Linked DNA regions of Homo sapiens. The gene in region 1 interacts genetically with each later gene. Each region holds a gene or a part of one and is shown in the gene's direction. Other genes may lie near its edges.

Region 1 (3,472 bases):
GTCTGGGCTCATCATAGGCCAGCAGTATGCATTGGTTTGATGGGATGCAATTTAAATGGAGAAGCACTAAGATTCTAGAGTAAAGAATCACAAGAGGGAGGAGGAATTTTGAAGTACTCATTTTCCTGATTGTTTTAGAGGAGAGATGACATGGGCTTGGGTATTAAACTGGATATGGGATGGAATAAGATTTTGAGAGTTGAAAGTGACTAAAAGATTGTATCATTCACCTTTACGCTTGCCGATGAGGAAATCAAGCCCTAATAAGATCAGGTACCTAATCTCAGCCAAAATTAGAACCTAATCTACTTTTTTCTATACCAATTTGTAAGGAGATTGTGATTATAAGGAGATCTTTAAAAAAAAAAAAACCTGGGCTGCGGAATATATTAGGAAGTTATCAATAATTATATTAGGAAGTTATCAATAATTCATCTGTAAAATTGGAGATGTTAATATCTACCTCACTGAGCTGTTGGGAAGATTAAATGTAATCCAGGAAGCACATTTAAGTAGAGTGCTAGGCAAATGATGCTTACTGCTTTGATGGTCAGTTTGTTTTTTTTTTTTTTTTTTTGAGACAGAGTCTCGCTCTGTCGCCCAGGCTGGAGTGCAGTGGTGCGATCTCCGATCACTGCAAGCTCCGCCTTCCGGGTTCATGTCATCCTCCTGCCTCAGCCTCCCGAGTAGCTGGACTACAGGCGCCCGCCACCATGCCCGGCTAATTTTTTGTATTTTTAGTAGAGATGGAGTTTCACCATGTTAGCCAGGATGGTCTCGATCTCCTGACCTTGTGATCCGCCCGCCTCGGCCTCCCAAAGTGCTGGGATTACAGGCTTGAGCCACCGCGCCCGGCTGATGGTCAGTTTTTACACTCACACATGCACACACACACTGTCCAAAAAGTGAAATCTCTCAGTTTTATAGATTTGAGTCCTTGACCAAAGACTGAAAGAGTAGTGAAGCCACACATCTTTGCCTTTGTCACACATAATGATAATTTCCCCCATGACACCTTTTACTGGCACTTAGTCCCTTAAGTGCTTCTGAAAGTAAAACTGATGGGAAGTTTTTTATATCTGTTAGATTAGCAAAGATCAAAGACTTGATAATATACAGTGTTCTGAAGGTATAGGGAAACAGTACTCTCACACATTGTGTAAATTATCCTAACCCTTTTGGAGGACATGTTGGCAATACCTTAAAAATTTTAAAGTCCACATGGTCTTTGACTTAGAAATTTCAGTTCTAATCATTCTTTATATATATATATATATATATATATATATGTATATATATATCTGTATATAGATATATATGCTTCTAGCTGTGCAAAAAGACATTTATACAGAGACAGCTTTGTTTGTAGTAGACAAAGATATGAAACAAGCTAATGTCCATTAAGCAGAGTGGATAAGTAAATCATGATACATGGACAAAATGAGTGGACTATTCTGTGTTTCAGAATGGGCATGACCGATATATATGTGTATTAATGTGGGTCAGTCTCCGTGATATAACACTGAGCAACAAAAGCAAGATACAGAACGCTATGTATTATGTGCATAAAATAGCTCTGAAAAGATGGGCAGGGCGCGGTGGCTCACGCCTGTAATCCCAGCACTTTGGGAGGCTGAGGCGGGCAGATCACGAGGTCAGGAGATCAAGACCATCCTGGCTAACACAGTGAAACCCCATCTCTACTAAAAATACAAAAAATTAGCCGGGCGTACTCGTGGGCGCCTATAGTCCCAGCTATTTGGGAGGCTGAGGCAGGAGAACGGCTTGAACCGGGGAGGCGGAGCTTGCAGTGAGCGGAGATCACGCCACTACACTCCAGCCTGTGTGGCAGAGTGAGACTCCATCTCAAAAAAAAAAAAAAGTGTTGGGAGAGCATAGAATGAATATAATACAGTTGAAGCTTTGTATAGATACTTTCTGGTTAGGGATGAGAATGCCCTTCTGGTCTTTCTGAGTACCAGCCTGCATTTCTCTATGTCATGTCCTCCCTCAGGTATTTGAGTACAGCATCCCAGACAAACAGTATACAGATTGGAGCCGGACTGTCCAGAAGCAGGGCTTTCACCACCTTTGGCTCCAAAGGGATACTCCTATCACACACATCAGTTTTCATCCCAAGAGACCGATGCACATCCTTCTCCATGATGCCTACATGTTCTGCATCATTGACAAGTCATTGGTGAGTTCTTCACTGCTACCTCCCAAATCTTCTTCTGAATCTTAAAGTTCTAAAAGCAACAAGTACAATAAGGTAAGAGGACAGAGACTCAGAATAAAGGTAGCTAGTAAATCAGAATACAGGTAGCTAGTACATTTCTTGGAGGAGAGGGGCTTTTGTTTTACAGATTCCCTGGTTTGTGTTCCCACAGTTCTTCGGGAGGCTCTCGGGGAAGGGGCTGGCCTTTGTATACTGGCTTTTGCTGATTTGACTATTTGTCTACTTTGCGAGTAAGCACATAAATCTTACACAGAAAAGTGATTAGGCCAGTATTCGGAAGGTGACCCTCATCCGGAAGTATCATTGATTTGGCTAACTTGCTTTCAACTTTGAACTCTGGGGTATCTGAATAACCTGGTTTCATTAAAGGAGGTACAGGCTGAGGTTTTGACCTCTGTGCCCCTTCGCTAAAGCTACTAAAACGCTGTCTGCAGGCTTGAGGAACTGGTCTTAACATCTTCGAAAAACCCAGCTAGGAAAATTCTTCATGGCTGTGATTTACATGGGATACGAGCATTTTCTTCAGTTTTAGATTCTGTCCTCTTTGCCAGCTGCTGTTTTGATTCACCCTGAATTTGTATGGCTTTTCTGGGCAGGTGCTTTGTTTCCTAGGAGCATTGTGGCCATGCCTGTCCTGCACTTTGGGCTTAGATTACAACCATCACACGGTGTTTTGGTGTGTTTGTGAAGGTGGGGGTGGAAGGAACATGGGGGAAAGCAGCAGATGGCTCTAAAGGAGGTGTGCACGGGGATGTGTCACTGGAATCATCTCGTGGGCCCTGCGACCTCTGGGTGTGGGAAGCAGAGCTGGCTGACAAGTGCCTTCTGCAAGATGAGTGATACAGGAAGGGCCCCTCCCACTCTCTTGCCTCTTTGTAATTGAGCCCAGATCATTTTTTCCAAAGCATTGGCTTTAAGTTCATCGCTTCCTTACAGTAGGCATAGCTATTTCCCAGGAAGTCAGAGACAAAATATCATTTCTTTGGCCAGAGGCCACCTCGAGGTGTCAGTGACATCAGCACAGGTGGTTTGTGTTGAGGTTTCGCCTGGGGAGAACTCCAGTCACTTGTCCAGTCTGTGATCTGGTTGGGGGAGAGTCTAGAAAGCACAGACCCTGTGTGGGCTGAGCTCCTGCACTTGCCAGTTTGTTCCATTCTGACAAAGTGATACTGATGAGACAGGCCAGAAGCCGCAGAAGGGCCCTTTGATCTTGCTGCATGGAGTTAACAAGCT
Region 2 (3,500 bases), on another chromosome or scaffold:
AGCACAGCAAGGTGACTACAGTTAATATATTTCAAAATAGCCAAAAGAGAGGATTTAAAATGTTCCCATCACAAAGAAATGATAAATGTTTAAAGTGGTAGATATGGTAATTACTCTGATTTGATGATTCTACAATGTATGCATGTGTCAATATCACTTTGTACTCTATAAGTGTCTAAAATTATTGTCAAAATAAAACAGAAAACACATCTTAGAGTTTTATAACAATATTTATATATTTATAACATTTTATCAGCTGATAGCATTAACTGTTATTCAGAAACACAAATTGCATATAATTATAGAACCTAAAGCTGTAGTATACATAATTCTACATAACTACTCATTTTATATACCTACATACCCTGTAGACCCAAACTTTTATGTTCTCCTTTGACTCACTGCTGCTACATATGGCTGCAGAGCTCCAATTTGACAACTACAATGTGAGTGACTCTCCGGGGATTATGCAACACGGTGGCCCTTTTCGAATCAGTCTCATTTTATATAAACTTGATATTCTTCCACAAATAAGTGCTCCACAAAGATTGCAACATAAAAACACAGTTATAGAAGAAGACATTAGAAAAAAAAAATTAAAAAAATCTTCATTCATGAGATTCGTACATAATTATAGAATTGTAAATCTTTTTCTAGAGCCTTTCAGAAAAAAATGAAATTCACTGAAATGAGATTACTAAATCAGCGTTAGTCTGGGATATCTTCCAGGGCAGAGAAACAGCTTTGCTAAATAAAATTAATGATAAAATGACTCTTAACAAAATAGCATTTACCCCGGAGTCCACACTAGACATGCAAGTATTACCACTGCTCTTCTAAAACTTGTTATAACTAAGATGGGAAGATATAGCTAACTCTGGAAAGAAATACCCAGTTCAGCAAAGATTTTAGCAAGTTGTCAAAACAGGGATTTGGAAACAGCAGTAGATGTGTTTTTCAACAATTGTTTGAATACATTTTAATCAAAATCTGGTTAGGATTCCCAGAATTTCTTATGTCTGTTTTATATCTGTTCATATATTGAGAATTACCTTTGAAGTGGATTTTTAGAAACTATAAGAGGTAAACATGCTGAAAGAAGCAGTAAAAGGTAAAAAGCTGCTCCTGGAATATCTTCTTTTTTCCTATAACCTGAAGGGCAGTTTCTTGGGGAATACACTTCTCAGGATTAGTCATTTTTGTTGTCATTGTTTTTACATACCAACCTTCTGTAATTAATCCTGAGGATTAAAATATACTGCTTCTTCATTGGATACCAAATTGTTTCTACCAAGACAGAATCTCAAATTGTGTTACCAATCTGGAAGCACACTTACTGCTATAATCTGTTGCTTTAATTTGGCAACAGAAGTCTGTCATGGTAGTATTTTTATTTTAAATTTTTAAACATCACGGGCCTACTACACAGTTTTTTCTTTCTTCCTGATTTTTTAGTTCTGCCCCACCAAGGATTCTACTTGCATGTAATTTAGAGCAGGCATCACGCTTTTTCTGTAAAGGACCTGAAATGAATGCCTTTGTAAGACACACAGCTTCTGTCACAACTACTTCGCTTTACCATTGTGTCGTGAGTGCAGACATAGGCAATATATAAATGAATGACTTTGGCTTTGTTCCATAAAACTTTATTAAATAAAAGAAAGTTCCAGCGGCAGGCTGGAACAGCCCCCATGGGCCAGTTTGCCAATTCCTGGTTTTGAAAATCAAATACTTCTACAAGAATTTTTTTATAAAAGTGGCAGTACTCTATTATTCCTTTCCTGCTTCAATTGCAGTTAGTTCGCATAGAGTTTACCCCTACAGTAAGATGTTTATGTACTGTATTAGCTTTTTTATTTTAAGCACTAGCTATTAACTTTATGTTGTGGTAGGTAAAGATTTAGATCTCTTTTCTCCTTCAGGCTCTAAGTCATATATCCCCTCCATCCTCCTCATATACTTATCTCCTGATATCCCCCCTTCATCCTCCTTATATACTTGAATCAGATTAGGTGAACATTTATTGATTATGTTATTGTGACTGTGAGTCATGTACTGAGTTATTACTACTTTTCTGCATAATATTTCTGTTTTCTACAGTTTGTGATAGGTTTATTTTGTTAGTTTTCTGTCTTATCTGTAGTGTAACACCAAACTCTCCATCTGCTATTGATATGTCCTCTCCAGATATTCAGCACACCAAGTATCCCAAACCTAAGTCTCCTGTCACCATCATCCTGGGAAGTTCCTTCTGCCTAAGTCTTCTGTTTCTTGTCTCCTATGCCATTCTTATTATTTGTATCCTTCCTCATTTTAGGGGAGCCAGTAGCTTCTTGGACAGAAATGTACAAGGATGTAAATTTTTTTGAATAAACTGCATGTGTGGAAGTATTTTTCTTCTTCCCTAGGTTGGAAATTCTTTTCCTTCATAATTTTAGAAGCATTAGCTGCTCTATAGTTTGACTTCCAGAATTAAAGTCTGAAACCATTGTGATCTGTGCGTCTTTTCTTTTTAGTTTATTATTTGGTGACTTGTTTTATTATCTGAAATCTTGTAGGTCCCAATATACTAATGTGACTATTTTCATATATTGTTTTCAGTCTTCTTAGCCTGAAAAATCATGTTTTTCATTGGAGTTTCTATATTCTAGCTTTTAATACTCAAGCAAGCATGTTTGACCTATGCCTTCAGCAGCTCAGCTTGTCACTAAGTGACTCAGGATACTAGCAATAACCTTCCTTCCTAAATTATCTTTTTTCTATCTTTCCTCTATTGTATCAGGAAACTCAGCAGCAGGTTGAAGAAACAGGTTCACTTTGCGCTGTACTTAAATGAATGGTCCATGAGTAGACGACATTTCTTGGAAAAGGTTGAACAGAAGCTGTGTCTAATAGTCAGAATAGATGCGTATCAGTTTCCTAAGGCTGCCATAACAAAGTATCACAAATTGAGTGGTTTAAAACTATGTAAATTGGCCAGGCGCGGTGGCTCACACCTGTAATCCCAGCACTTTGGGAGGCCGAGGCAGGTGGATCACAAGGTCAGGAGTTCGACACCAGCCTGGCCAACGTGGTGAAACCCCATCTCTACTAAAAATACAAAAATCAGCTGAGCGTGGTGGCGGGTGCCTGTAGTCCCAGCTACTCGGGAGGCTGAGACAGGAGAATCGCTTGAACCCGGGAGGCGGAGGTTGCAGTAAGCCAAGATCACGCTACTGCAACTCCAGCCTGGGTGACAGAGTGAGACTCCCAACAACAACAACAAAAAAGTAAATTTATTTTCTCACAGTTGAGGAGGGTGAAAGCTTGAAATTAAGGTGTCAGTGAGGCCACACTTTCTCTGGAAGCTCCAGAGGGGAAACTTTCCTGTGTCTTTGAGCTACTGGTGGCTGATGCCAGGATAACTCCAATCTTTGCCCTTAGTGTTCACGTAGTCTTTACTGTGTCTCTCTGTGCCCCTATATCAAAATATTCTTCTCCTTATAAGGAAACCAGTCTTA

The links.
Region 2: changes in UTP4 (region 1) and SRFBP1 together harm fitness more than expected from each alone (negative genetic interaction), as found in Homo sapiens cells (one large-scale study listed by BioGRID).

The regions. Positions count from the first base shown.
Region 1 is NC_000016.10:69,163,327-69,166,798, forward strand, and holds part of UTP4 (U3 small nucleolar RNA-associated protein 4 homolog), read left to right. Parts: intron 1-2,014; coding exon 2,015-2,200; intron 2,201-3,472. UniProt on the Homo sapiens protein: Ribosome biogenesis factor. Involved in nucleolar processing of pre-18S ribosomal RNA. Part of the small subunit (SSU) processome, first precursor of the small eukaryotic ribosomal subunit.
Region 2 is NC_000005.10:122,013,975-122,017,474, forward strand, and holds part of SRFBP1 (serum response factor-binding protein 1), read left to right. Parts: intron 1-3,500. UniProt on the Homo sapiens protein: May be involved in regulating transcriptional activation of cardiac genes during the aging process. May play a role in biosynthesis and/or processing of SLC2A4 in adipose cells.